Linked DNA regions of Homo sapiens. The protein of the gene in region 5 purifies or fractionates together with the protein of the main gene of each other region. This does not show direct contact. Each region holds a gene or a part of one and is shown on either strand. Other genes may lie near its edges.

Region 1 (4,237 bases), on a different chromosome or scaffold from region 5:
AGCTGATGCTCCCTGGCTGGCCGCTCCCCAGGAGCTGAGAAGCCTGAAGAGGGCCAGGCACGGAGGAGCAGGAACGAGGACAGTCAAATGTGCCAAGCTTGTCTTTGGTTGTAACTGGTAATGTCCCATGTCTGTTATTCTAGTTCCCCACTATCTTGCAAGGATTGGCAGTAAAGTCCTAGTGATGGACAACGCGGCAGTGGGGAAAGTGACAGCCGTGGCTAGATCATCAGATGTGTCTGTAGAATCCGGTGTGTCCCTGTGAACATCCGCCAGCAGTAACCATTCACATTATTTCAAAAACCTGCATTATTAGGTTGAAAATGGGTAAATCGGGGAAAAAGCCAGCACTTATCCAGCTATTCCTCTGTGAACTAACCCATGCATAACAAACAGATTTTTTTAATGGAAGAATTCCAGCTAGGACCCGAGCAGCTGGGATCTTCACACTGACCGTCCATGCTGTGAACGTAAAAAACAAAAACAAAAAAACAAACCCAAACAGCGCCCGGGAATGGTGGCTCACGCCTGTAATCCCAGCACTTTGGGAGTCCGAGGCGGGCAGATCACCTGAGCTCGGGAGTTCAAGACCAGCCAGACCAACATGGAGAAACCCCGTCTCTACTAAAAATACAAAATTAGCCTGGCGTGGTGGCGCATGCCTGTAGTCCCAGCTACTTGGGAGGCTGAGGCAGAAGAGTCGCTTGAACCTGGGAGGCGGAGGTTGCGTTGAGCCGACTTCGCGCCATTGCACTCCAGCCCGGGCAACAAGAGGGAAACTCCGTCTCAAAAAAAAAAAAAAAAAAACCCAAACAGAATCGGCGGCTCACTTGCCCCCAGACTAACCCAGATCAAGCCCCTGGGTGGAACTGCAGTTTCCAGGATACAACATCCCGGGGTCAGTAAAACCCGGAGGGGTCGCTCCGTGGGAGCCGGAGCCGCGAGGAGACAGTCATGGAAGCGGAGGGGTAGTCCTGACCCCGCGTGGGTCCTGACGCCGAGATTAAGACGAGTGGCCATTTAGGAGGATGTGGACCCTGGACGCTCGTGGTGAGTTAAGGATGAGACGGAGGTAAGGTAAGAAGCGCCGGACTGAGCCGCCCCGAGGCAGCCTTGCTCTGCGGATGGCGGAAAGGGTGCGCCGCCTGTGGAGGCGTCCGATGGGGGCGGGGCTGGGGACCCCGGGAGTCACCAGCATCCCTCAGCCTCGAGCACGAGCCCTCAGCCACCACCGGAAGGAAGACAGGGTTCCCGGAACTCTATTCGGAGGCTCTGCGCAGGCGCGGCCCCCGCCCACCGGCGAACTCACTGGATAGGGCTGAGACGGGGGCGGGTCTTGGCTCCGCCCAGAAGGCTGCGCAGGCGCAGTCCCGACGAGCAACGCGTTTGTAGAGGGGTGGGTGCGCACGCTCTGTCCCTGCGTGACCTTCCGACCCCGCTGTCCTCACCGCAATGGCGGCTGTGAGGGTCCTGGTGGCCTCGAGGCTCGCTGCGGCATCTGCATTCACGTCCCTGTCCCCCGGCGGTCGGACGCCTTCCCAGCGCGCAGCCCTTCACCTCTCCGTGCCGCGCCCCGCGGCCAGGGTCGCGCTGGTGAGTGGACGGAGGGGGTGAGGTCAGCTCCCGCCTCCAGAGATCAGCCTTCGCTGTTCTCTGCCCAAGGTCGGCCCCTCTTCCTAGGTCCGCTCCCGCCGCCCCACGTCGGCTCCTTCACCCCAAGTCAGCTCCTGCGGCCCAGGTCGGCCCCATTTTCCCGGGTCAGCGCCCGCGGCCCAGGTCGGCCCCTTTCCCCCCAGTCAACTCCCGCCGCCCAGGTCGGCCCCTTTCCCCCGGGTCAGCTCCCGCTCCTCTCGCAGGTGCTGTCTGGATGCGGAGTCTACGATGGGACCGAGATCCACGAGGCCTCGGCGTAAGTCCTCAGGGGCAGCTGGTCCTCCACCCCGGGGGCCTCGAGAAGGCCTCTCCACCAGTGAAGTTTACTCTTTTTTGAACAGCTTAGAGAAAGCATGTATTTTATTTTATTTTTACTTTTTGTCTTTTGAGACAGCGCCCAGTCTGGAGTGCAATGGCGCGATCTTGGCTCACTGCGGCCTCCGCCTCCTGGGTTCAAGCGATTCTCCTGCCTCAGCCTTCCGAGTAGCTGGGACTACAAGCATGCACCACCACACCCAACTAATTTGTGTATTTTTGGTAGATACGGAGTTTCACCATGTTGGCCAGGCTGGTCTCAAACTCCTGACCTCAAGTGATCCTCCCGCTTTGGCCTCCCAAAGTGCTGGGATTACAGGCATGAGCCACTGCACCCGGCCGAGAGAGCTTGTATTTTAAATACCCTATTCTTGGCTAAAAAAAAGCAAAAACGACTTGCAAAACCCAGGGAGACGCTAAGAAAGAACAGTTTTTAAGTGTCGCTTATGCTGTCACCTAGAGCCTAGAAATGACTTAGCATTTCACTTGAGTGTTTTTCAGGACACACACATTTTGAAAACACTGAGATCACACTCACCCGTGTTTTGCAAATGTTTCTGACGCATGGGAAGTAATTCCCATTCATTCAGTTCTCAACATCATTTTAACAGTTGCGTGGTATTTCTGGGTCCTAGACAGGTTACTGTTTACGTAACTGGTCAGCTGTTGCTGAGTGCTTGGTGGCCTGATTTCCTGTGCTACTGGAAATGACTGCAGGCCGAACCAGTAGGGCAGGAGGCCACCACGCGTGCCAGGTACCTGTAGTTCCCATGTGGTTCAGGGTGAACTGGAGAGGGGAGAGCTGGGTGGTGGCGAAAGGGGTGTCAGGCCATGGAGAGTGGCCTGAGGCTGGTGGCTTTGTGGGTGGCCCACCTTGGCTGGTTGGAGTTGGCACTAGGCAGAGTGAGCTGGGGGAAAGGGCCAGGATGTGTTTCATGATTTGGCCTTGGTGGGATAGAAAATAGCCCCAGAATAGCTTGAGCCCTCCCAGGCAGAACGGCAGGGTCTTGTGTCTGGGGTGTCTGGGTGGATTTCTTATGGGTAGCGGAACCCAAGTGCCAGGGCCAGGTGCTGACCTCTCCCTCTGGCAAGTCACTGCACTTCATGCCTCGGTTTCCTCCTCCACGTAAGGGGCAGTGAGGGCTTAGTGTGTGGGTGGGCTTAGCCACCTATCTCCTGTTGGCACTGGGAGTTGCGGATGCCAGCGTGAGCCCCCATAATGTCAGCTGTTGTCCCCAGGAGGAGCTTCTGTTGCCCTTGCCCTTGGGGAGATGGAGCTGCCTGGCCTGTGGTGTTGTCCTGGGGTCTCTTGTGTCTCTCCCACCATCTGTGATGGGAAAGTTGAGGGAGACTAGAAATTGAACTAAGTAGTGACCGAAAGCCCCGTCACACCGTCTGTGCACGTGGCACTCTGAGCACACTGCTGCTTCTCACTCTTGGTGCTTGCAGCAAGCAACTGGAGGAGGGCAGCCAGGCCCTGGGTGTAGGTAGAGCACTCAGCAGCCGGGGACCCGCACGCCTCCAGGCTGTGCCCTCAGTGGAGTCACCCGGCCCCCATACCCCAGTTTGCAAAGGGAGCTGTTGGGACCAGCTGATCTCCATAGCCCACTTCTGAGGGTTTGTCATAGTCGTAACCCACCAACCGACAGTGAATTGGAATGGGGGTGTGGGGGACGTTTGGCTTGGTATGGAACCAACTGTAACTTTTTGCAGAGCAAGTAAGATATTAATATACATTAGGAATTTGCTCCTGGTACTTAGCTAAAATCCTGTTTTTAAAAATGTGTTAACACAAATCTGAGTGGGGCACGTTTTGAAGAGTTGTCTCTGGTTTTCCCCCGTGCAGGATCCTGGTGCACCTGAGCCGTGGAGGGGCTGAAGTCCAGATCTTTGCTCCTGACGTCCCTCAGATGCACGTGATTGACCACACCAAGGGGCAGCCGTCCGAAGGCGAGAGCAGGTGTGGGGGTGGGATTGGAACTTGCTTCTTGTCTACCTCCCACGGTGCAGCCTTTTTTTGCTGGCTTAGCTTAAACCAAGTCTTGTGTGCAAATGAACGTCCTTCTGAGCAGCTGTGCTCGGGCTGTTCCAGAAGTAATGCTGCCAAGGCTCAGGAGTGCCTTCCTTCCAGTACTCACAGAAGGACTGAAAATGGCGACCGGATCGCTTCCCACTGAGTCAGGCTGCTCATACCTTGGTCTTAAGCAAAGGTGGTGGTTCTCAGCTTGGTCGCCCACCTTCTTCCCCTGTCTGGGCTCCAGATCTGTTT
Region 2 (3,500 bases), on a different chromosome or scaffold from region 5:
TGCCTGGGGGATAGCTACGGGATGGAAGGACTCAAGCCAAGAGCTGACCTGGGGCCCCGGGAAGGTGTCACCATCGATGTCACTGGCCACCAGGCTGCAGAAACCCCCGGGGACTTCCGGGGCAAGTGCTGCCCTGCGGTCAGAATGCCCTCCCAGGCGGCCCAGCGTGGCCTCTATTCTGGGCCAGGCTCAAGGATATCCCTGCCCGACTCTGGCTGCTGGGACTTGCTCCCCAGGAAATATATCTGGCTTCGGGGACTTTTTAATGTGGCCTCTGGAACCCCCAGTGTCCTAGCTGCACCGAGACCAGCCTCACAAGGCAGGTTTAGAGACCCAGAGTGAGAAAGCGGCCAGGTGGTGGCTGTTGGAGGGCGGTTAGCAGGCCAGAGGCAAGAGCGGTTATTCCATGTTAAAAAGTATCAGAACGATCCATGCTACATTCAACTTCATACTTACAGGGAGCACTTCGTGCCAGTGCTGGGAGAGGAGGAAGGAGCTGTGTGGTCAGCGCCAGCAGGCATTACGTGAGCTGTAAGGTACAGAGTCCCATGCAAAGCGCCCGCAGTCACAAGACGCACCCCGGGAGGAGGGCAGGCCATGGGTCAGGCCCCAGCTAAGGAGCTAGAAGTTTCAACAGGTCAGACCTGAGGGTCTCCCAGCATCTCTGCCTCCTTCCTCACAATGCCCAGCCCACATCCCTCACCAACAATTGTGTATAACACTTGGGAGTCACAGGCCAAAAAGCAGGAACAAGCCCTTTCCATGAGCAGAAACCAACAAGAACTTCCCTGTGGCCACGGTGTCACACACGGGGGCCACCCATGAGCGTGGTGCCTGGAGGAGGGCAGGTTCCAGGGGTCTTTGAACACTGGCTCTTAGTTTTGAGGAGCAACAGAAAACGTGTTTTTGTTTTTGAGATGGAGTCTCGCTCTATTGCCCAGGCTGGAGGGCAGTGGTGCCATCATGGCTCACTGCAACCTCTGTCTCCCAGGTTTAAGCGACTGTCACACCTGTCACTTAAATAGCTGGGATTACAGGCGTGCACCACCATGCACGGCTGATTTTTGTATCTTTTGTAGAGATGAGGTTTTGTCTTGTTGACCAGGCTGGTCTAGAACTCCTGGCCTCAAGTGATCCAACTGCCTCGGCCTCCCAAATTGCTGGGATTATAATTAGGTGTGAGCCACTCCGCCCAGGCTCCAAAAACATGCTCTTGGTGTTGCCCATGAAGGCCCACCTTGGCCACTGCTGCCACGGCCAGATCCTGGCTGCTCATGGCTTAATTGCTGTGTTAGAAATCTGAAGAAACTCCTAACAGCAATCAACAATGACTTTAAACAACTAAGTAGGTTGATTATAAAAGCATTAGACGTAACAACAAAAAGAAGAGAATGCTGTCTGGGAGAGCCTCTTGTGGTCCATAATACAATTAACACTTCATAAATGTCAGGAAAATTTTCAATTACAACCAAAATCTGAGAATTTTCACCCTTCAGAGAGCAACATCATTATTCTAAACAAGACACAGGCTATAAGGTTGGCTAGCAGGACAAAGTGAAATACTTTAAAACTGGAAACCTAACTGGATATAGTGGCACACGCCTGTGGTCCCAGCTACTCGGGAGGCTCAGGCGGGAGCATCGTTTGAGCCCAGGAGGTCGAGGTTGCAGTCAGCTGAGATCGCACCACTGCACTCTAGCCTGGGTGACAGAGCAAGACCCTGTCTCAGAAAAAAAGAAAAAAACTGGAAATCTGATGTGGTCACTGGCTGGGACTTAATTTGAAACCTAGGGTTGACAGACGAATCACAAGTCCCAGTCACCAAGAGAGAGCCCAGTTTCCAGGGGCCCTGGTTTAGGGTATCCCATCTCCTAGACCCTGGGCTCAGAAGGCACATCCCACACATGACACCAAGGTCTCACAGGCAGCCTCTGGGAAGGGACTGTCCCAGGGGACCTCGGGGGGACCAGCTCCCACCCCCAGGGCTCTGTTCCTGCTCTAGCCCTTCCTGAAGAATTCCAGCTACAGACCGGGCGCAGTGGCTCATACCTGTAATCCCAGCACTCTGGGAGGCCGAGGCGGGCTCATCACTTGAGGTCAGGAATTTGAGACCAGCCTGACCAACATGGTGAAACCCTGTCTCTATTAAAAATACAAAATTAGCCGGGCATGGTGGCACATGCCTGTAATCCCAGCTACTTGGGAGGCTGAGGCAACAGAATCGCCTGAACCCGGGAGGCGCAGGTTGCAGTGAGCTGAGATCATGCCATTGCACTCCAGCCTGGGCAACAAGAGCGAAACTCCATCTCAAAAAAAAAAAAAAAAAAAAAAAGAATTCCAGCATTCCAGCTACAGGCACTTTGTCAACCCCAGGATGGCGGCTGAGGCGCACACCAAATCCTCTCCGCCTCCTCCAGGTCACATAGAGGCCCCCCTGCAGCATCGAGGCCTCCCTGGGGACGGAGGTCCATCCAGGTGGGGTTGGGGTGATGAGCGACTGGCCTCAGCCTCTACAAGGGCCCCTAGCCTGCCCCCTGCTTTCCACACCCCACCAGAGTGGCCTTCTGTGAGCTCCCTGAAGCTCCTGGCCCCCGTGGTCTCTCCCTAGAAAAGCCCTCCTCTTACAGCTATCTGGTTCATCTTCTGAACCTCGGCTCAAGCATCCCTTCTCCAGAGAGCTGCCCAGGGCGGCTCAGCCCCCTCCACCACACCCCCTCTAGAACTGTCCTCCACTCCTGCAGAGCCAACGACCCCATTTGCATTGGCACACTTGTTGGCTTGTCTATTTCACTGTTGTCTGTCTGTCCCCATCTAGCCTGGAAGTCCCACGAGGGCAGGGCTGGGCCCAGGGGGCCCAAAGCAGGTATCCAGTTGACAGGCTGGACCCCTCTGGGGACCCACGAGGGCTGGGGTGTGGGTCACATGTGGACACCAGGTCACCACAGACTCAAGCTGGCCAGAGCCCCATTAGAGCCCCAGGTTTGCATCCTCCTGAAGTGGATGCTGAGCAGCCCAGAATCAGGAGTGCCCAGGAGCATGGCCAGCAGCCCCTTCCAAGCCCTGCTGGCCGGTACTTCCTTCCAGTCTCAACTTCAGTGCCACTCCTGGAAGCAGCCTGCCCTGGAGCCCCACACCTGTCCACCTCCCTTCCTCCCTGCAAAAGGGTGGAGAGCCTGGGGGCAGTCACGTGCTGGCCGTCACCTGCCCACGGGGCAGCACAGACTGATTCCGCCCTTCCTGCTAATTCCTCCATGGCGCAGCCATGTGCTGTCATTCCTCCCACTGGGTCAGAGCCTGGACCATCCAGGCTGCCGGCCAAATCATGACCATGCCCACAGGTCCCTCCACCAAATGTGGAGGCGGGTGAGGCTGGTCATGCATCAGAGAGCTGAAGACAGCGTGTCCAGGTGGCTCTCGGGAGCCCTGAACCTGACAGGAAAGGCAGAGGCAGGGCCCGACAAGCACTGCCTGCAGACCTGGCGTGTCACACGGAGGTCAGG
Region 3 (4,135 bases), on a different chromosome or scaffold from region 5:
CTTGAGAGCTGGCTCCTGCCGGCGGCTTGGGCTCCTCTCTCCCATCCCTACCCCCTCCTTCCAGACCAAATCGCCCCATCTGAGTGGCTTTCTTGTCGCTTCCTATTTTATTTATTTTTCGAGACAGTCTTGCTCTGCTGCCCAGGCTGGAGTGCAGTGGCACGATCTCAGCTCACTGCACCCTCCTGCCTCAGCCTCCCGAGTAGTTGGGATTACAGGCGCACGCCACCAAGCTGGGCCATTTTTTTTTTTTTTTTTTTATTTTTAGTAGAGACCTTGTGATCTGCCCGCCTCAGCCTCCCAGAGTGCTGAGATTACAGGTGTGAGCCACCAGCGCTTGGCCTGTTTCCTATTTTAGAAGGATGCAATTCCAACCTCTGGCCAGGAGAACCTCCCCCTCCCTGCACACGGCCACCTGCTTTTCACTGAGGTCTCAGCTCAAACGCCACCTCCTGGAGGCCTGCCCTGACCACCCCCCATGCATTCACAGGAACCCTGCCTTCTCCTGTCCCCCAGCCCCTGTCTTGCCTTCATCAGACCATCCTTTGATGTCTCTATTTTTGTTGTTTGTTTTTTTTGAGACAGATTCTTCCTCTGTCACCCAGGCTGGAGTGCAGTGGCGAGATCTCGGTTCATTGCAACTTCCGCCTCCCGGGCTCAAGTAATTCTTCCACCTCAGCCTCCCTAGTAGCTGGGTTTACAGACATGCACTACCATGCCCGGCTAATTTTTGTATTTTTAGTAGAAATGGGGTTTCACCAGGTTGGCCAGGCTGCTCTTGAACTCCTGACCTCAGGTGATCTGCCCGCCTTGGCGTCCCAAAGTGCTGGGATTACAGGTGTGAGCCACCACGTCTGGCCATCTGATGTCTCCTTTAACTAGGACATCAGCTCCTAGAGGGCAGGGACTGATCTGTCGTCTACCACTGTCCCCATACCCGGGCAACACCTGGCACGTAGCATGATTTTAGTGAGCAGCTACTGAGTGTAAGGGGTAACGTACAAATAGTTGAGCTGTCTTGGGGCCCTGCCTGGGGCTCAGATTAAAAATCAGCTTAGTCGGCTGGGCGTGGTGGCTCACGCCTGTAATCCCAGTACTTTGGGAGGACGAGGCTGGCGGATCACCTGTGGTCGCCAGGTCCGAGACCAGCCTGACCAACATGGAGAAACCCTGTCTCTACTAAAAATACAAAATTAGCCGGGCATGGTAGCGCATGTCTGTAATCCCAGCTACTCCGGAGGCTGAGGCAGAAGAACTACTTGAGCCCAGGAGGTGGAGGTTGCAGTGAGCCGAGATCGCACCATCACACTCCAGCCTGGGCAACAAGAGCGAAACTCTGTCTCAAAAAAAAAAAAAAAAAAAAAATCAGCTCAGTTTTAGTAAGAGCTCGCCACGCAGGTGCCCTCACCACCTGCCAGGCCCTCTGCCATCTGGTTTTCCTACTGAACCCTCCCCGACCAGGTGTTTTCCAGATGGAGAAACAGGCCCTACCTGCCTTGCTCGGGGGTGTGCAGCCATTTCAGGGCACAGCTGGCCGCTGGGAGAACCAGGACTCAAACCTGGCTCTACGCCGGCACTCACCTCGTCGATCTCACACTGGACCACGGACTCCACGGAGGGGTGCTTCACCACCTCCCGCAGGACACCTCCATCTCCGCCCCCGATGATCAGCACCTGGGAGGAGGGGGCAGTCAAGGCAGGGGCCCTGGCAGGACTGGGAGCCCCCAGGCCCCTGAAGCAGACCCCCTGACCCCTCGGACCCACGGGCCTCATCTTTTTCTACCCTCGGAAACGCTTTCGTGCCGGTGTCCCCTTTCCTGGAAGTTCCTTCCAGGGCTGCCCTAGGATTCCGAGGCCGCGTCAGTGTCGGCCCCCACCCCTCCGCGGGACGCCCCTGGCCTCGCTAGCACTTTCTCTGACAACCATGCAGGCAGCATCTGGGAAGAGCCCGGAGCACACCTGGGGCCGCCCCTCGTCCGGCACTGTTCCAGGGGACACTGGGGTACCTTTCGCGGGTTGGGGTGGCTGCAGAGAGGCAGGTTGGCGATCATCTCCTGGTAGGAGAACTCGTCTCTCTCCGTGCACTGGATGACACCGTCCAACACCAGCACGTTGCCATAGGTCTTACTGCGGGCGGAGTGACAGTCGGGGACCTGGGTTCTCTGGGGTGGGGAAAACGTACCCCAAGCCGCCCTGGGTGAGGAGGGTCTCCCCATCCCGCCTAGGGGTCCCAGGGATGAGGAGCGATGGTGACACGTGGCGAGGAACGGCAGGCGGGCCGCCGGGTGGAGGCCGGGGTGGGACCCGGGGTCTCCTCGGGCTCTGACGTGTCCTGAGGGCTGACACGTGGAGCGGGGCGCAGACTCCGACTCCCCCACCCAAGAGGCCAGCCCGCAGTCCCAGCCCCAGCCCAGGGAGGCGGTGTGAGGGGTGGCGAGGGGGCCAGGGCAGGACGAGGTCCAGCCCGCTTGGGTCCCGGCGTGGAGAGGCCCGTGAGGCGGGCAGCAGGCGGCCCGGGCTGAGCCTAGGGGGCAGGCGCCTGCGGGCAGCGGCGGTACCTGCGGAAGACGAGGATGTCCTGGTAGCGCGAGCGCCGGTGGTGGAGCAGCTGCTCCACCTGCAGTGACAGGGCCTGGCCGGGCCACAGGCTGCAGGTCTCGCGGAACCAGCCCTCGCGGATGGCGGCGGGGCCGGAGGCGGCGGGGCCGTCGGGGCCGGGCTCCATGGCGGGCGGGCGGGCGGCGCGGGGCGCGGGCCCGGGACTGCAGGCCGCGCGGCGCCGCAGCACAACGGGACCAGCTCCGCCCGCCGCCCGCGCCGCAACCTAACCCGGGCGCGGGGCGGGGCCTGCCGGCGGGGGCGGAGCCCGCGCTCGCCAATGGCAAAGCGGCCTCGCCTGGCGCTCATTGGCCACCGGCTCGCAGAGCGGCGCAGAGTGGCTGTGGCGCGCCGTCCGTCGGCGGCAGCAGGGTAGTGCGGCCCGCTCCAGGGGCCACGTGGGGCCCGGCCGGGGCCGGGCGGCCGGGTCGGGTTCCGGGGCGGGCTGGGCCGGCGGAAGGGGTCCGGGTCCTTCCTCCGCCCCAAGCAGCCGGGGCGGTGCACCACCGGCCCCCGCTTCCTTCTCGGGGTTGGGAGGCACCGAGGGCCTCGAGGGGCTGCGGGACTCGGGCTTGGTGTGGAGGGCAAGAGCGCTGCGACGTGCGGACTGGAGAGTCAGCCTTTGGGCTGGAGACACGGGAGCGGGTGGCTACAGTGGTTTACGTTGTTGCACGGGGCGAGTAGAACGTATCCTTCTTTGCGTCCAAAATCTGGTTCCTTGTTGGATTTGAACAGATTATGTGGCTCGTCGGGGCGAACCGAGGGTTTTTATTTACTTGGAAAGAATCATCACAGCCCGCGAATTCACAAGCTGGATTTAGCCATTTTCCCTTAGATTCTGCGCCATGAGCCTATAGGCTGTTGAATACGAGAGAAGTGCTTTTCTAAACGAGTTTCTAAATTTACCAGCAGTGTCCAGGAAGAGGCCCAGAACATACATATTCAGCACCAGAAAAGACTGGCACGCAATTTTTCTTGACAAACTGGGTCTTGCTCTTTGAAGGGTGGGTGGGAATGTGCTGTTTTTATGAGAATGTCAAAGAACTTCTCAGAATCACATTAAGCATGCTAATTACCAAATATTAAATGCTAATTGTTCCACACGCAGTTCGAATGCCAAGGAAGGAAGATGAAACTAGTATAAGCTACTCTTGACATTATGTCAGGGATGGTTTTGACACGTTTTGCAGCCTCCACCTGGAGGTGGGGAACGTTTCCTGTGTCGTCCCCAGAGCAGAGTAACAGCGTTGTTTATGGGTGAGAGCAAGCCTCAAGCCTAGGCAACAATGTGCCTTGCTTGCTTTTAAGCTCCTTCTAAAGGGGAGGTAAACCAAGACCGCTAAAGAATTGCTAGGTGCCTGGGCGTGATGGTTCACCCCGGTAATCCCAGCACTGTGGGAGGCGGAGGCGGAGGCGGGCGGATCACGAGGTCAAGAGATCAAGACGATCCTGGCCAACATGGTGAAACCCCGTCTGTACTAAAAATACAAAAATTAGCTGGGCATGGTAGTGCGCGCCTGCAGTCCCAGCTACTCGG
Region 4 (3,500 bases), on a different chromosome or scaffold from region 5:
GACGGGCACGGTGGCTCATGCCTGTAATGCCAGCACTTTGGGAGGCAGAGGTGCGTGGATCACCTGGGGTCAGGAGTTCAAGACCAGCCTGGCCAACATGGTGAAACCCTGTCTCTACTAAAAATACAGAAATTAGCCAGGCGTGGTGGTGCATGCCTGTAATCCCAGCTACATGGGAGGCTGAGGCAGGAATCGCTGGAACCTGGGAGGCGGAGGTTGCAGTGAGCCGAGATCATGCCATTGCACTCCAGCTTGAGTAACAAGAGCAGAACTCCATCTCAAAAAAAAAATTATTTTTCCTCTAGTAGGTATAAAATAATGTGTTTTGTTTTACTTCATATGTATTTTATTTATATTCTTTTCTTTATTTTTTGAGACGGGGTCTCCCTCTGTCACCCAGGCTGGAGTGCAGTGGCACGATCTTGGCTCACTACAACCTCCACCTCTCGGGTTCAAGCAATTCTCCCGCCTCAGCCTTCCAAATAGCTGGGACTACAGGCGCATGCCACCACGCCTGGCTAATTTTTTGTATTTTAGTAGAGACGGGGTTTCACCATGTTGCCCAGGCTGGTCGCGAACTCCTAAGCTCAGGCAATCTGCCTGCCTCAGCATCCCAAAGTGCTGGGTTTACAGGCGTTAGCCACCGCGCTCAGCCTGTATTCATTTTTTAATTGACAGAAATTGTATTTATGGTACGCAATATGTTTTGAAATATATATACATTGTGAAATGGCTAAATTGAGGTAATTAACAAATTTATACCTTACGTACTTACCATTTTCTGTGGTGAGAAGAGTTAAAATTTAAATCAGGTGCAGTGGTATGCACCTGTAGAGCCAGCTACTTGGGAGGCTGGGACCTCAGGAGGCTTGCCTGAGCCCAGGAGCTTGAGCCTGTAGAATGCTATGATAGCACCTGTGAATAGCCTCTACACTCTAGCCTTGGCAACATAGCAAGGCTCTGTCTCTTAAAAAAATCTACACAGCAATTTTCAAGTATAAAATACATTGTTATTTCCTATAGTCACCATATTGTACAATATAGCTCTTGAATTTATTTCCATATATTTTTGATTACTAGCTTCTCAGGGCTTAAAATATTAACATAGTTTTAATTCTAATGGTCACAATGAATTACTTCACCTTTTATATTGATTTTTTTCTTATGCAGGAAATTCTTGGTGCATCACTTTCTGCACCTTTAACATCATACAAGGTGATCTATGTTCTCCCAATGCTAACTATTAAGGAGGATAAAGGTAAAGAGTTTATTTATTTCTAGAAATATTTTGATAAACACATTTTGGTTCTAGTTATTAATTCCACACTTTGTTTTCTAAGGCACTGGTGTGGTTACAAGTGTTCCTTCCGACTCCCCTGATGATATTGCTGCCCTCAGAGACTTGAAGAAAAAGCAAGTAAGTATCTGAGTTTCATGTTTGTATTTCGTCCTCACCATCTCATTGCTTAGGTGCTGCTGAACTACGCTGTGGGACTAGGCTAAAAAGCTATGCATTTATCTTTAAACTGCTATCTCTAACTTGTTTCTTGATGTTAATATATTTTCTGTGGTTTGAATTTTAAATATGTTCACAGAATTTTGAAAAAGCTTTCTGATATTCACATTTTCATTGAAATCTGGCATATGAACCTCAATTTAAGTGATATGTGTATGTCTATGTACATTTTTGCTTTTGGTTGTGTGGTTTCATTTAGGCTATTCACTATAACTTTAGCTATTAAATTTTTGAAGGTTACAGATCCCTTTTGAGATATTTGGCAAAGTTAGAAAATTGCTCTCTATGGAGAGGAGAACAAATAGAAACTTTAAAGAAACTTTTAAGAAACTTTGGAGATTGCTTCTCTCAATGATTCTCCCAGTAAAGTGTTGATCATTAGTGTTAACTTGCAAATTTTTCTGTAGGCCTTACGAGCAAAATATGGAATTAGAGATGACATGGTCTTGCCATTTGAGCCGGTGAGTACATAGATAATTCAGAATATTCACATCCATCTCTTTATCAGAGAAAAAGAAGAGCTAACATGTTTTCCTTATAACAAAATTAATTGGTGGAGTATGAAAAAGAGAGTTTGCTTAAGGATTTACTCACTTTAATTTGATACCTGCTATGGTAGATAAGAGCAAAAGGAAAACTAACAAGCATTTTCTTACCACCTGGCACCTGCAGTTCTGGAACAAATAGCTTTTTAGCATCACCAATTTTATAGTAGCTTGCTTTGCTAGTGTGATCAATTTCCTGGCTTCTAAAGATAAAATTTTGCCCTTTTCATGAATGTTTATATGTAACCATAATAACTTTAACAAAGTCCTGTACAACTCTGTTTTATGTTTCTTGTATTTTCATGTTAGTATCTATAGAAGAAAAACTTTTAAATTACTAGCAAATGATTTTCATTTCATGAAAGATCCAGAGGAATTAATATAAACCAAAAGCACAACCATCCATGAATCTAGTTGTTTACATCAGCAGGCCCCAACCTTTTTGGCACCAGGGACTGGTTTTGTGGAAGACAATTTTTCCATGGACCAGCAGGGTGTGGTAGGGGAATGGTTTTGGCATGAAACTGTGCCACCTTAGATCATCAGGCATTAGATTCTCATAAGGAGCAAGCAACCTAGATCCCTCCATGCACAGTTCACAATAGGGTTCGTGCTTCTATGAGAATCTAATGCCACCCATGATCTGACAGGAGGTGAAGCTCAGGGGGTGATGCTCGCCCGTTCCTCACCTCCTGCTGTGCAGCCTGGTTCCTAATGCCATGGACTGGTACCGGTCCACATCCTTGGGGTTGGGAACCCCTGGTTTACATCATTTTGCTAGTTTCAGTATGAATTACTTAGGTAATTATATGCCAGTGGAGGATAGAGTGTTGGGAAAGGTGTGTGTGGTGGGGGAAGGGCATTGGGGGTGTTGGTACACAGAGTATGGGTGGTTCCTGTGGAGAGTAGAAGGACAAATTTACATCTGGAAGTTAGTCACTCTGTGATTACTTAATGTGTGGCAGTGTCGTAATGACATATACAATCTGAAATGACTTAATTGGACATTAGAGGCAAAAGGACTTGTGCCCTACAGAGCTGTGTGTCCAGTCAGTGTGAACACGTTCCTGATTGCTGTTTGCTGCAGGTGCCAGTCATTGAAATCCCAGGTTTTGGAAATCTTTCTGCTGTAACCATTTGTGATGAGTTGAAAATTCAGAGCCAGAATGACCGGGAAAAACTTGCAGAAGCAAAGGAGAAGATATATCTAAAAGGATTTTATGAGGGTGTAAGTAATAATTTTTTTTAGTTTTTATTTGCTTTACTCCATGCTCTGTGATTTTCTTAATTAGAAAAAATGTAGAAAAATTTAACATAGTTTCAGCTATACATTGATTTGAGAGCTTAATATGAGAATGTATTCTATTTCCAAATTTCTAATTTTTGTTTTTATCATGTCCTTTGCCTAAAAGCATTTTCAGAAATTGTCTTTTTCGTGC
Region 5 (3,500 bases):
ATCTTTAAGTTCCAATATCCTCTGCTTCTAAATATCCAGGATCTACTTATTTGCGTGTCAGTTTTGCCAGCTCTGAAGCAGCAGGTGCCTAAAATCTGCATTTCTATCTCCTGAATAATTTCATTATCAAATGTGCCATTCTGAATGAATGAATTCTGTTTTTCCTATGCCCTTTGAATGTATGAAATGAATGTATTGAACGTGTCTGTGTCCTACTGAATGTAATTCCATAAGAGGTTTCTTACTAATTTCAACCTGTTTTTCCCATGTCCTTATTTAAGAATATATTTTCTATTCCTAAATCTCTCATTTTATCACCTTTATTTTACAATTTGAAAGTCTGGAAGAAAAAAAGGAGTGTGATTTTCATCAGACTTACTTAAGAATAACTCCATCTACAGTTCAACTCCACTGTGCCTCCTCCTTCTCACATCCTCATACAGGGAGGCAATTTTCCAAGTTTAGTGGAAATGAGGACCCCTCATTAGAAGCCCTCCACCACACTCCCCCGTCCCTTGCAGGAGTAGGAGATAATGTATGTAAAAGTACTTTACAAAGGGCAGATTGATAATATCACCATAATAGGACTGTTACTGGGATTTGTGATGGGGAAGACTGTCCTTTGGTGGTGACTATGGTCATGGATCTTTTTTTTTTTTTTTTCCCCAGACAGGGTCTGTCACTGTCACTCTCTCACCCAGGCTGCAGTGCAGTGGCACGATTATGGCTCACTGTAGCCTTGACTTCCCTGGGCTCAAGCAATCTCCTTGCTTCAGCCTCCTGAGTAGCTGAGATTACAGGCACATGCCATCTCGCCCGGCTAATTTTTGCATTTTTTGTAGAGACCAAGTTTGCCATGTTGTCCTGGCCTCAAGTGATCTGCCTGCCTCAGTCTCTCAAAGTGCTAGGATTGCAGGTGTGAGCCACCACACCCGGCCTTGGTCATGAATCTTAATGTGGCTGCCACTTTTTCCCCATTATGCCCCCAACACTCAGAATAGTGCCAGGTCCCAGGCAGGGCTCATGGCCTTGCTCTTGCCAGAAAAGTCATGCTCTTGCAAGAAAGTCTGGGGTTGTTTGAAGGCCATTTGCCTTTGGGAACTCTACTTTATGTGACTGTTGACTTAGTAAGCACCTATGTAAATGCTGAGCTGTATTTAAAATCCAACTAAGTGAACTTCTCACCTTGAGACTCTGAACACAGACACCTGGACCTTCCTGCCAGCTGGCTGACACCTAACGCCATGCTGGGGGCTCGAACTGGTTTGCAGTCTCTCCCAGTCCTCCTGGGCGATCTGCTATGTTCAGCAAACTGGCTTCCGTTGGAGTGAACTTTTCTTCCCATCGTGCTTCCTCTTCGTTAGCCAGGAACTGCCTCCCGGTAAGGAAATCGGCTCTCTGGTTTCAGATGTTCTGATTTTTTTTCAAGGAATTTCTTGGCTCGGGAAAGTGGCCACCCTTTCTCTCTCCCTCATTTTTCTGAGCAGTCCATTTTTGTGGGTGGAGCCCACCTCTCCTATAAGCACCCAGGATAAGCCCAAGGAAGTTGTGACGGTCTAAAGGGTCAAATTTCACTCTCAATTTACACCTACATCTGTCTTTAGTTACTTTTGTTAGTTGGAGACATCCAATGTAAATGGTGTCTAACATAGTGAGTTTGCTTCATTGTAAAAAATCACCTGTAAGACCTAGCAACTTATGCTTCCAGTCCTTGGCTGTCATGGGCATTGTATTACATTTGTAAGCAGAAACTACCATATTTGCAAGCAGAAAAGCGAGTCATTTTCCCTTTAGGTAGAAAAGGTATGCAATATTGACATCCCCCAGAGCTGTGCTGTTTGATGCCATTGCCCTCCTGGGGAACTGAAGACAGAGAGAGCAATGGTGGGGCTAGAGAGAGAAAAAACAGAAAAATGTCACCAGAGTTTCCAGAGCTGTTAATTGTGTTCCTCTCCCCCCACATTCATCAGTGGCCTTAGTGACTGTTTTCTACAGAAAGGGTAATATCATGGGCTGTATGGTCAGGCCCTGGGCTATTGGATGCTATCCGGTACTATAGGGTGAGTGGAAGGAGAAACTGGAATATCTAGATGATCTTCCCCATTTCTCCAACAGCTCCAGGACAGCTTTTAAATTAGAACTGACAAAGGCTGAGGGAAGTTTTAGGTAGGTGGAAAGGAAGGTAATGTTTTTATACCTGCAATCTTTTTGCATAACAGATTATTTTGTTATTTGGGGTTAATAAAGGCAAAGAATAGGGTAAGAAAAAGCTCTTTTTGTCTTTCTCTAATGACCAGGGGAGTCTCAAACTCTAATCCAAGGATTTACGAATGAGAGAGAAAGGGATTTCAAGAAGTGTATTGTGATAAAATCTGAAAAACTAAAATTTCCAAACTGACTCTAAAAATGCCTTACAAGATTTTAAATTAAATGAGTTTTAAAAAAATTACCCCACTGGAAATCCTTTACTAGCAAAGATAGAAAACATTAGATTTTTCGTTATTGCTTTTAGCAAAAGTCGGGTAATCTGAGGAAATGTAAAGGCTAGGCTGTACTTTCTTGATATTAAGCGAAGTTTACCTCCTGCCACCTGCATGGAGTAACCAGTTCAACGTGGTTGAAGTAACCCTTCAACGTGGCAGAAATAGAAAAACTGAATTTTAAAATGCAATTAATAGAATTAGATAGCTTTGGCTGGACATGCTACTATCACTTCTGAAAATACTCTTGTTGCTTTTACTGCTTCTCCTAACCCCTCCAAGAATGGCAGACACCAACCATCAAGCCTTCCACTGGCTTCCTGTCCTGCTTTACAGACACGCACAGGCACACCTGAAATGAGACATACATACATTCCCTCGCTGGAAAATAAAATGAATTACTCCAGTAGGAAACAAATTCTCCAACCCTTCACCAATTCAGGCATTTACTAAAGATAATCTAAGGGGCTTTTTCTTCCTTTGCTTCTCAAAATTCCCCTTTAGGTCTCTGCCCCAGAGCCCCCTCCCGGGAAACCACATTTGCTCCACTGCACTGGCTTCCAGGCATGGAAGGGAGGTGTATCTGGAGACCTGGGAGACACCTTGATTTCCTTCCCCAGCCCCTTCCCGCAGAGCTGTGGGAGCAGATACTGACTTTTTCCTTCTGACCTCTCTAGGGATGCCTTTCCATTAGAGGGCAAAGAGGAAGAAGAGGAACTGGGTTAAAGATGGCCTCTGCTGAACACATATGTCAAAATCAGCTAAGCTAAACCGAATAGGGCCCAGTTAACCTCAACGATGTTCACCACAACAGAGCAGGCTGGAAGATTCCCCCACCTCTCAATTTTAGGTGCTTGCTTCCAAGGGCAGGCTCCCTTTGGAAGCAGAAGCTGAACTTCTGGCTAGGAGGGGCTATTCTAGAAGAGACCGAAGCTAAATCTGTGGCCCAGGCCTGCACACCTCCATCTGCAAGGATGTCCACTTTGAGATGCAGAAGATGATTCTCCCTGCCCGCGTCGG
Region 6 (3,500 bases), on a different chromosome or scaffold from region 5:
AATGTCCCCAGTGGCCAGGCAATCCATGCTCGTCATTGAGCCGCACTGCCCTGCTCTCTGTTATGTAGCATCTCTCCGCCCTACTCAGATACTTTCCCCAGGACCTAAGCTTAACATGTCTACAATCTGTCTTCTGGAAATTGCATCTTTCTAGCCACTCAGACTGAAAACGTTGGCACCCTCTGACTCCTTCCCTATTATCCCCACACAGGGCATTGCCAAGGATTTTTGTCCCCATAAAGACTCCTACTTCTACCTGTCTATCTCATTGCCATTCCCCTGATACTGTTCCTCATTCCATCTCCCTGACTTAGTAATTTAATCTCTGAACTGTCTCCTGCCTTTTATCTTGCACAGTACTGCCAAAAAATCTTCAGAATCACTAGCGACATAGTCTCCCTAATCAGAAGCTGGCAACGACTCTCCACTCCTTATAAGATCAGTGAAGAGCCTCAGCTCAACGCTTTGTCCTTATTTTCTACTTGCCACCATCGTATAGTTCTAGGTGCCAAACTGCACTACTTCTCATTTTTTGTCCAAATATCTCCATGTTCTGGCACATGGAGTCCCTCATCTGTGCGTTTTCCTTCCTCCTGTATGCACAGAAACAGATTATCTTCCATTTCCAAGGCCAAGCCCATTGCTATCTCCTTGCTAAACCTCTCCTGATTTCCCCGCAAGGAAGTAATCTTGCCTTTTCTGAGTTCCCCAGAACTATTTTTATAGCCGTCAGTTATACAATTAAGGTTTCCTACCTCATAGTAGTTTGATCCTCCTATTAAACTGTAAGCTTCTTCAGAGCAAGATCTTTGTATCTTTTATCTATAAACTAGCTAAATGCCTTGGGCACGGACGTATTCTTTAAAAATGTGAGTTAAAGTATCTTTCTGTGTTTAGAAAAGCTGGAATAATGATATGGATTTCATGTGTTTAAGAGAATTATTTAATGCCCAGATAGGTTAAGTAGTAATTTTTTTTTCTTTTTTTTTTTTTTTCTTTTTTTTGAGATGGAGTCTCTCTCTTTCACCAGGCTGGAGTGCAGTGGTGCAGTCTCGGCTCACTGCAGCTTCCGCCTCCCAGGTTCCAGCGATTCTCCTGCCTCAACCTCCCGAGTAGCTGGGACTACAGGTGCACGCCACCACGCCCATCTAATTTTTGTATTTTTAGTAGAGACAGAGTTTCACCATGTTGGCCAGAATGGTCTTGGTCTCTTGACCTGGCCCGCCTCAGCCTCCCAAAGTGCTGGGATTACAGGCGTGAGCCACCGCACCTGGCCGAGTAGTAAATTTTTGTTTAAATTTTATGCATTTAGCAGTCACAAATTGGGCGTCTACTATATGACCAACAGTCTTCTAAGGACATGTGAACTGCCCCCTGCAATCCTGGAGCTTACAGTGGAGAAAGGAGTATAAGGACAAGAACTTGACATTTTTTGAATATCCGCTGTGTGCCAGTCACTGGATTTAATGAAAGTTAATAATGGGTGAAACTGAATCAAACCCAGGTTCACCTGGCACCAAATGCCTGTCTGTCAACCCAGAGGCATCATCGTGAATTCCCCTTACAGCAGTTTGCTACAGTGAGTCATCAATAAGGTCCGAACTTCTGGAACTAGATAATTAATTTCACTGCAAATTAGAATCATTCTAGAAAGGAAAAAAACAAGAAATGTAAATTAAGATTTACCTCATTTCAGAGATATAATCCTGCAAAACTGTACATATAACTTTCTAAAGCCCTTGATTTTCACTCTTTTCAATTTTGCTGATCCACTTATTTGAGACCAATGAAACGCCTGCTTCCCACTTTAGACCTTGGAATTGCCTGTCGGTTAATTTCTGGTAGTTCCTGCAGTTTGCCTTACTGACAGGCCAGTGCCATCTAATGGTAAAAAAGGACAGTCTGAAGCTCTTGGTTTTCTTAAACTGCCCAGTGAAAAGAAATCATTTTCTTCATTTTACTTTTCAGTTCAGGAATATATTGCAGCAAAAGAGTGGAGACAACCTATAATTTTTGTTTATCAAATTTTGTGAAGTCTGTTATACAGCTTTATTTATATTTTGCCTAATTCCAAAAGCATTTGTGGCCATTACAGAAAACACCTACCAATAAAAGAGTAAAATATTTTTTACATGTCTAGTCATTTAATAAATGCTATTTTGAATTGAAATTGTATTTTAGTTAGTTTGCTTGTTTGAGCAATCCAACGACTTCAAGGAAAAGAAAAAGTATCGTTTTGCTTTTTTGTTTTTTCTTTTTTTTTAATTATACTTTAAGTTCTGGGGTACATGTGCAGAACGTGCAGGTTTGTTACATAGGTTTACACATGCCATTGTGGTTTGCTGCACCCATCAACTCGTCATCTGTATTAGGTATTTCTCCTAGTACTATCCCTCCCCTACCCCCACAGCCTCAACAGGCCGCAGTGTGTGACGTTCCCCTCCCTGTGTCCATGTGTTCTCGTTGTTCAACTCCCCACTTATAAGTGAGAACATGTGGTGTTTGGTTTTCTGTTCTTGTGTTAGTTTGCTGAGAATGATGGTTTCCAGCTTCATCCATGTCCCTGCAAAGGACATGAGCTCATCCTTTTTTATGGCTGCATAGTATTCCATGGTGTATATGTACCACATTTTCTTTATCCAGTCTATCATTGATGGGCATTTGGGTTGGTTCCAAGTTTTTGCTGTTGTGAATAGTGCCTCAATAAACATATGTGTGCATGTGTCTTTATAGTAGAATGATTTATAATCTTATGGGTATATACCCAGTAATGGGATTGCTGAGTCAAATGGTATTTCTGGTTCTAGATCCTTGATGAATCGCCACACTGTCTTCCACAATGGTTGAACTAATTTACAGTCCCACCAACAGTGTAAAAGCATTCCTATTTCTCCATATCCTCTCCAGCATCTGTTGTTTCCTGGCTTTTTAATGATCGCCATTCTAACTGGTGTGAGATGGTATCTCATTGTGGTTTTGATTTGCATTCCCCTAATGACCAGTGATGATGAGCTTTTTTTCATGTTTGTTGGCTGCATAAATGTCTTCTTTTGAGAAGTGTCTGTTCATATCCTTCACCCACCTTTTGATAGGGCTGAGTGTTTTTTTCTTGTAAATTTGTTTAAGTTCCTTGTAGATTCTGGATATTAGCCCTTTGTCAGATGGATAGATTGCAAAAATTTTCTCCCATTCTGTAGGTTGCCTGTTCACTCTGATGATGGTTTCTTTTGCTGTGCAGAAGCTCTTTAGTTTAATTAGATCCCATTTGTCAATTTTGGCTTTTGTTGCCATTGCTTTAGGTGTTTTAGTCATGAAGTCTTTGCCAATGCCTATATCCTGAATGGTATTGCCTAGGTTTTCTTCTAGGATTTTTATGGTTTTAGGTCTTACATTTAAGTCTTTAATCCATCATGAGTTAATTTTTGTATAAAGTGTAAGGAAGGGGTCCAGTTTCAGTTTTCTGCATGTGGCTAGCCAGTTTTCCCAACACCATAAAATGG
Region 7 (3,500 bases), on a different chromosome or scaffold from region 5:
AGCTCTAGCTACAGCCCTTTCCCTCCAGCTTCCCTGCCTACTTGGATGAAGGCAGGAGACAGTGCAGGGCTTCATGGCACTGTGGCCAGCACAGAACATGCAAGAGCTGTGGCCCTTTAGTTCTTTCCTTTAGCCTTATTACCTTGGCAATGAGCTGCAGATTGAAGGGTCCTGTGACCTGTAGCTCCTGGCCCACAGCATGCACAATGGCTTTGATCCGCTCCAGGGTTTTGGCAGTGATATCTTGTGGGGGGGTCACCAGCGTCGCATCACCTGAATGCACACCTGCATTCTCCACATGCTCAGAGATGGCGATGGCTGCCACCACACCATCAGAGGCCACGGCATCCACGTCAATCTCCTAGCGGGGGGACACAGACAGTGGGACATAGGGCCACTTTCTTCTCTCACTTACTCTAGGATTGTCTCTTCCTTTAACGAGCCCCACATAGCCCACTGTTCCCAGCCCTGGTGCCTATGATTCTGCTGGACCAGAGAAGGAAGTCTCCTCCAGGGCTGGCAGCATGCCCTCAGAGACTTCACTGTCTGCAGCCTCCCACCTTAGCCTCCTGGATGAACTTGGAGATGACCACGGGATGCTCTTTGGAGACGGCTGCTGCGCTGCTCAGGAAGCGCTCCAGGTCTCCATCCGTGTAGGCCACATTCATAGCAGCACCGCTCAGCACATAGGAGGGGCGCACCACACAGGGGTACCCCACGGTCTGGCAGAATTGGCGAGCAGACTACAGGAGGCAGGGAGCTTAGCTGAGTTGTTCACACTTTCCCCCAAGCATCATCCAGCCTCCGGGTAACCCACCAGGTCCCAGCCCACCTCGAGGTCACTGAGCTCCCTCCACTGAGGCTGGCTGATACCAATGGTGTCAAGGAGCCGGGAAAACTTGAAACGGTTCTCAGCCGAGTCAATGGCTTCAGGGGAGGTGCCCAGCACCCGGCACTGCTGCCGATGCAACGCCATGGCCATGTTGTTGGGCAGCTGTCCACCCATGGATAGGATCACACCTTCAGGGTTCTCGAGCTCATAGATGTCCATCACCACCTACGTTGCAGGGGGAGAAACAAGTGGTGGCAGCAAAAGAGGGCAGGAATCTGAGCCTTCCTGCTCACTGCTTCCCTCAGCCGCCACCAAGTTTCAAAGAATCTTAGGTCAGCCAGCTGTTCTACTCGACCCTGGCCACTCAAGCTACCAGGAAGCCTCCATCTCCCTCACCTCAAAAGAGATCTCATCAAAGTAGAGTCGATCACACATGTCATAGTCGGTGCTGACTGTCTCTGGGTTATAGTTCACCATGATGGTCTTATATCCCATCTGCAAGAGGGAGGGGAAGGGTACTTAGCAGTCAGGTGGGAGGAAAATCGTGGAGAAAATCGTGGAGAAACTAAGCCAAAGCCCCTACTTCAGAGACTGCCAGCACAGCTTCCTCTGAAAGAGCTGTACAGGACCCCTGCCTTGGGAGGGAAGGAGGTACAAAGTGTTGGGGAAGAGATTCATATACCGTGTGGGGCATGAGAGATGGCCTAAAAGGACCCCCACCCCAAAGCTCTATGACCAAAGTAAGGGACGGCAATTAATAGGAAATGCCAGGATTAGTGCCAAGCAATTGCTAGAGATGAACAGAATAGCAAGGAAAGTGGAAAGAAAATGAACTCTCTGACCTTTCGGAGCTGCTGGATGCAGCCTACAGCACACCAGTCAAATTCAACGCTAGAGCCAATACGGTAGACGCCAGAGCCAAGGACTAGGACATGAGGTGTTCGAAAGGTGAGGTCATGGGTGGTGCCCCAATACGTTAGGTATAGGTAATTTGTCTGGGCTGGCCACTCAGCTGCAACTGTGTCAATCTGTTTCACTGCTGGACAGATCCCCAGTTCCTGACGCAGCTTGCGAACAGCCAGCTCTGTGCTAAAATAGAAAAAGGGTCTGAAACACAGGCCCAGAGAGTAGGGTACAGACTGATAGAGGGTTGAGACCCCAGGGCACAGATGAGAGGAAATATCCTTGGAACCAAGGTCAGAAGCCTCTAAAGCTCTCCCACACTCTCCTTCCTCCCTCCCAAGGGTCCCTCACTGATACAAAGGTTCTGCCCCACATTTCCCAGCCGGAAGCTCTCATTGCCACCTCTGACCTCAGAACTGCAAGGGCAATCTGTTTGTCTGAGAAGCCAAGACACTTGGCCTGTTGCAGCAGGTCTGGCGGCAAAGGCTGTCCACGGTGTTGTTCTAGCAGCTGGGCATGTGCGATGATACGCTTCATTCGGTGCAGGAACCAGCGGTCGATGCGTGTGAGCTCATACAGGCGGTCCACTGAATAACCAGCCCACAAAGCAGCTGCCACCACAAAAATCCGCTTATCTGTTGGAGTCTCCAACTCCTGATAGAAAGGGGGTAGACAGACGGAAGCTACTGCCAGCCCATCTAAAAGCCTGAGCGTAAGTAGCTGCTCTTGTCTCAGGAAGGGGAAACTGTACACCAGAGCACAGGCTGTGTAACTGCAAAAACCTGGATACCAATCCTGGGTCTACCTCTCATTGGCTATGTGGCTTTGAGTAATTTCTATAACCTATGTCTCAGTTTCCTCATCTGTAAAAACAAGTCTAGTAATACACCCTTGCGTGCTAATGAGACATCTCAAAATTCTCAGCAAAGTGGAAACAAAGCAAATGTCCAATGATGACTGCTGCTAGTGTTACTGGTAACAAGCTCATGGTCTGGGGGCGATGAGAAGCAGGGTCTATTTTAGGGGTATTGCCAGGGGAGGGGAGCTACTTACCATATCGCTGACTGGTTTCACTGTGTGATCAAAGCCCACACAGTTCTCATCCACCATGCGCAGGGCCTTCTGGAAGGCCTCCTCAAATGAACGCCCAATGCCCATGACTTCACCTGGAAGAACAGAATGGAAGGAATGAAGGTGTGGAGGTGGAAGGGGTGGGAAGAAGGCACTGCCCATAATGCTTATGGTTTATAGTCAAGACTCTGGGAGATTCTCAAGGCAAGTCACATGATGGTGGGATTCATGGTGTTTCACAACTAAGAAATCTTAATGGCCGGGCGCAGTGGCTCACGCCTGTAATCCCAGCACTTTGGGAGGCTGAGGCGGAAGGATCACGAGGTCAGGAGATCGAGACCATCCTGGCTAACATGGTGAAACCCCGTCTCTACTAAAAATACAAAAAAATTAGCCGGGAGTGGTGGCGGGCGCCTGTAGCCCCAGCTACTCCAGAGGCTGAGGCAGGAAAATGGCGTGAACCCGGGAGGTGGAGCTTGCAGTGAGCAGCGATCACACCATTGCACTCCAGCCCGGGGAACAAAGCGAGACTCCGTCTCAAACAAAACAAAACAAACAAACAAACAAAAAGAAATCTTAACTTATAGCTCTTTTCCCTGCTATTTTCATGGATAAGCTCAGGCTTTGTGCTTATTGATGAATATGGAATCAATATGCCTAAAACGGGCATGGGGATACTGGAATATATCCCCAT

Evidence for each region.
Region 1: the proteins of DUSP4 (region 5) and GATD3 purify together in Homo sapiens (affinity purification with mass spectrometry, with the first as the bait; one large-scale study listed by BioGRID). This does not show direct contact.
Region 2: the proteins of DUSP4 (region 5) and ACOT7 purify together in Homo sapiens (affinity purification with mass spectrometry, with the first as the bait; one large-scale study listed by BioGRID). This does not show direct contact.
Region 3: the proteins of DUSP4 (region 5) and SRM purify together in Homo sapiens (affinity purification with mass spectrometry, with the first as the bait; one large-scale study listed by BioGRID). This does not show direct contact.
Region 4: the proteins of DUSP4 (region 5) and LARS1 purify together in Homo sapiens (affinity purification with mass spectrometry; one large-scale study listed by BioGRID and IntAct). This does not show direct contact.
Region 6: the proteins of DUSP4 (region 5) and DSG2 purify together in Homo sapiens (affinity purification with mass spectrometry; one large-scale study listed by BioGRID and IntAct). This does not show direct contact.
Region 7: the proteins of DUSP4 (region 5) and CAD purify together in Homo sapiens (affinity purification with mass spectrometry; one large-scale study listed by BioGRID and IntAct). This does not show direct contact.

Annotation. Positions count from the first base shown.
Region 1 is NC_000021.9:44,132,246-44,136,482, forward strand, and holds the start of GATD3 (glutamine amidotransferase-like class 1 domain-containing protein 3, mitochondrial isoform 1 precursor), read left to right. Parts: upstream 1-1,437; 5' UTR 1,438-1,452; coding exon 1,453-1,593; intron 1,594-1,856; coding exon 1,857-1,909; intron 1,910-2,664; exon of another isoform or gene 2,665-2,723; intron 2,724-3,814; coding exon 3,815-3,928; intron 3,929-4,237.
Region 2 is NC_000001.11:6,282,268-6,285,767, forward strand, and holds part of ACOT7 (cytosolic acyl coenzyme A thioester hydrolase), read right to left. Parts: intron 1-3,500. UniProt on the Homo sapiens protein: Catalyzes the hydrolysis of acyl-CoAs into free fatty acids and coenzyme A (CoASH), regulating their respective intracellular levels.
Region 3 is NC_000001.11:11,057,219-11,061,353, forward strand, and holds the start of SRM (spermidine synthase), read right to left. Parts: upstream 2,801-4,135; 5' UTR 2,726-2,800; coding exon 2,559-2,725; intron 2,128-2,558; coding exon 2,007-2,127; intron 1,675-2,006; coding exon 1,582-1,674; intron 1-1,581. UniProt on the Homo sapiens protein: Catalyzes the production of spermidine from putrescine and decarboxylated S-adenosylmethionine (dcSAM). Has a strong preference for putrescine as substrate, and has very low activity towards 1,3-diaminopropane. Has extremely low activity towards spermidine.
Region 4 is NC_000005.10:146,151,651-146,155,150, reverse strand, and holds part of LARS1 (leucine--tRNA ligase, cytoplasmic), read left to right. Parts: intron 1-1,170; coding exon 1,171-1,258; intron 1,259-1,340; coding exon 1,341-1,417; intron 1,418-1,923; coding exon 1,924-1,977; intron 1,978-3,148; coding exon 3,149-3,289; intron 3,290-3,500. UniProt on the Homo sapiens protein: Aminoacyl-tRNA synthetase that catalyzes the specific attachment of leucine to its cognate tRNA (tRNA(Leu)).
Region 5 is NC_000008.11:29,344,185-29,347,684, forward strand, and holds part of DUSP4 (dual specificity protein phosphatase 4), read right to left. Parts: intron 1,891-3,500; exon of another isoform or gene 1,346-1,890; coding exon of another isoform or gene 1,186-1,345; intron 1-1,185. UniProt on the Homo sapiens protein: Regulates mitogenic signal transduction by dephosphorylating both Thr and Tyr residues on MAP kinases ERK1 and ERK2.
Region 6 is NC_000018.10:31,504,677-31,508,176, forward strand, and holds part of DSG2 (desmoglein-2 preproprotein), read left to right. Parts: intron 1-3,500.
Region 7 is NC_000002.12:27,230,869-27,234,368, reverse strand, and holds part of CAD (multifunctional protein CAD), read right to left. Parts: intron 2,902-3,500; coding exon 2,789-2,901; intron 2,390-2,788; coding exon 2,145-2,389; intron 1,922-2,144; coding exon 1,675-1,921; intron 1,328-1,674; coding exon 1,229-1,327; intron 1,058-1,228; coding exon 833-1,057; intron 744-832; coding exon 561-743; intron 362-560; coding exon 143-361; intron 1-142. UniProt on the Homo sapiens protein: Multifunctional protein that encodes the first 3 enzymatic activities of the de novo pyrimidine pathway: carbamoylphosphate synthetase (CPSase; EC 6.3.5.5), aspartate transcarbamylase (ATCase; EC 2.1.3.2) and dihydroorotase (DHOase; EC 3.5.2.3).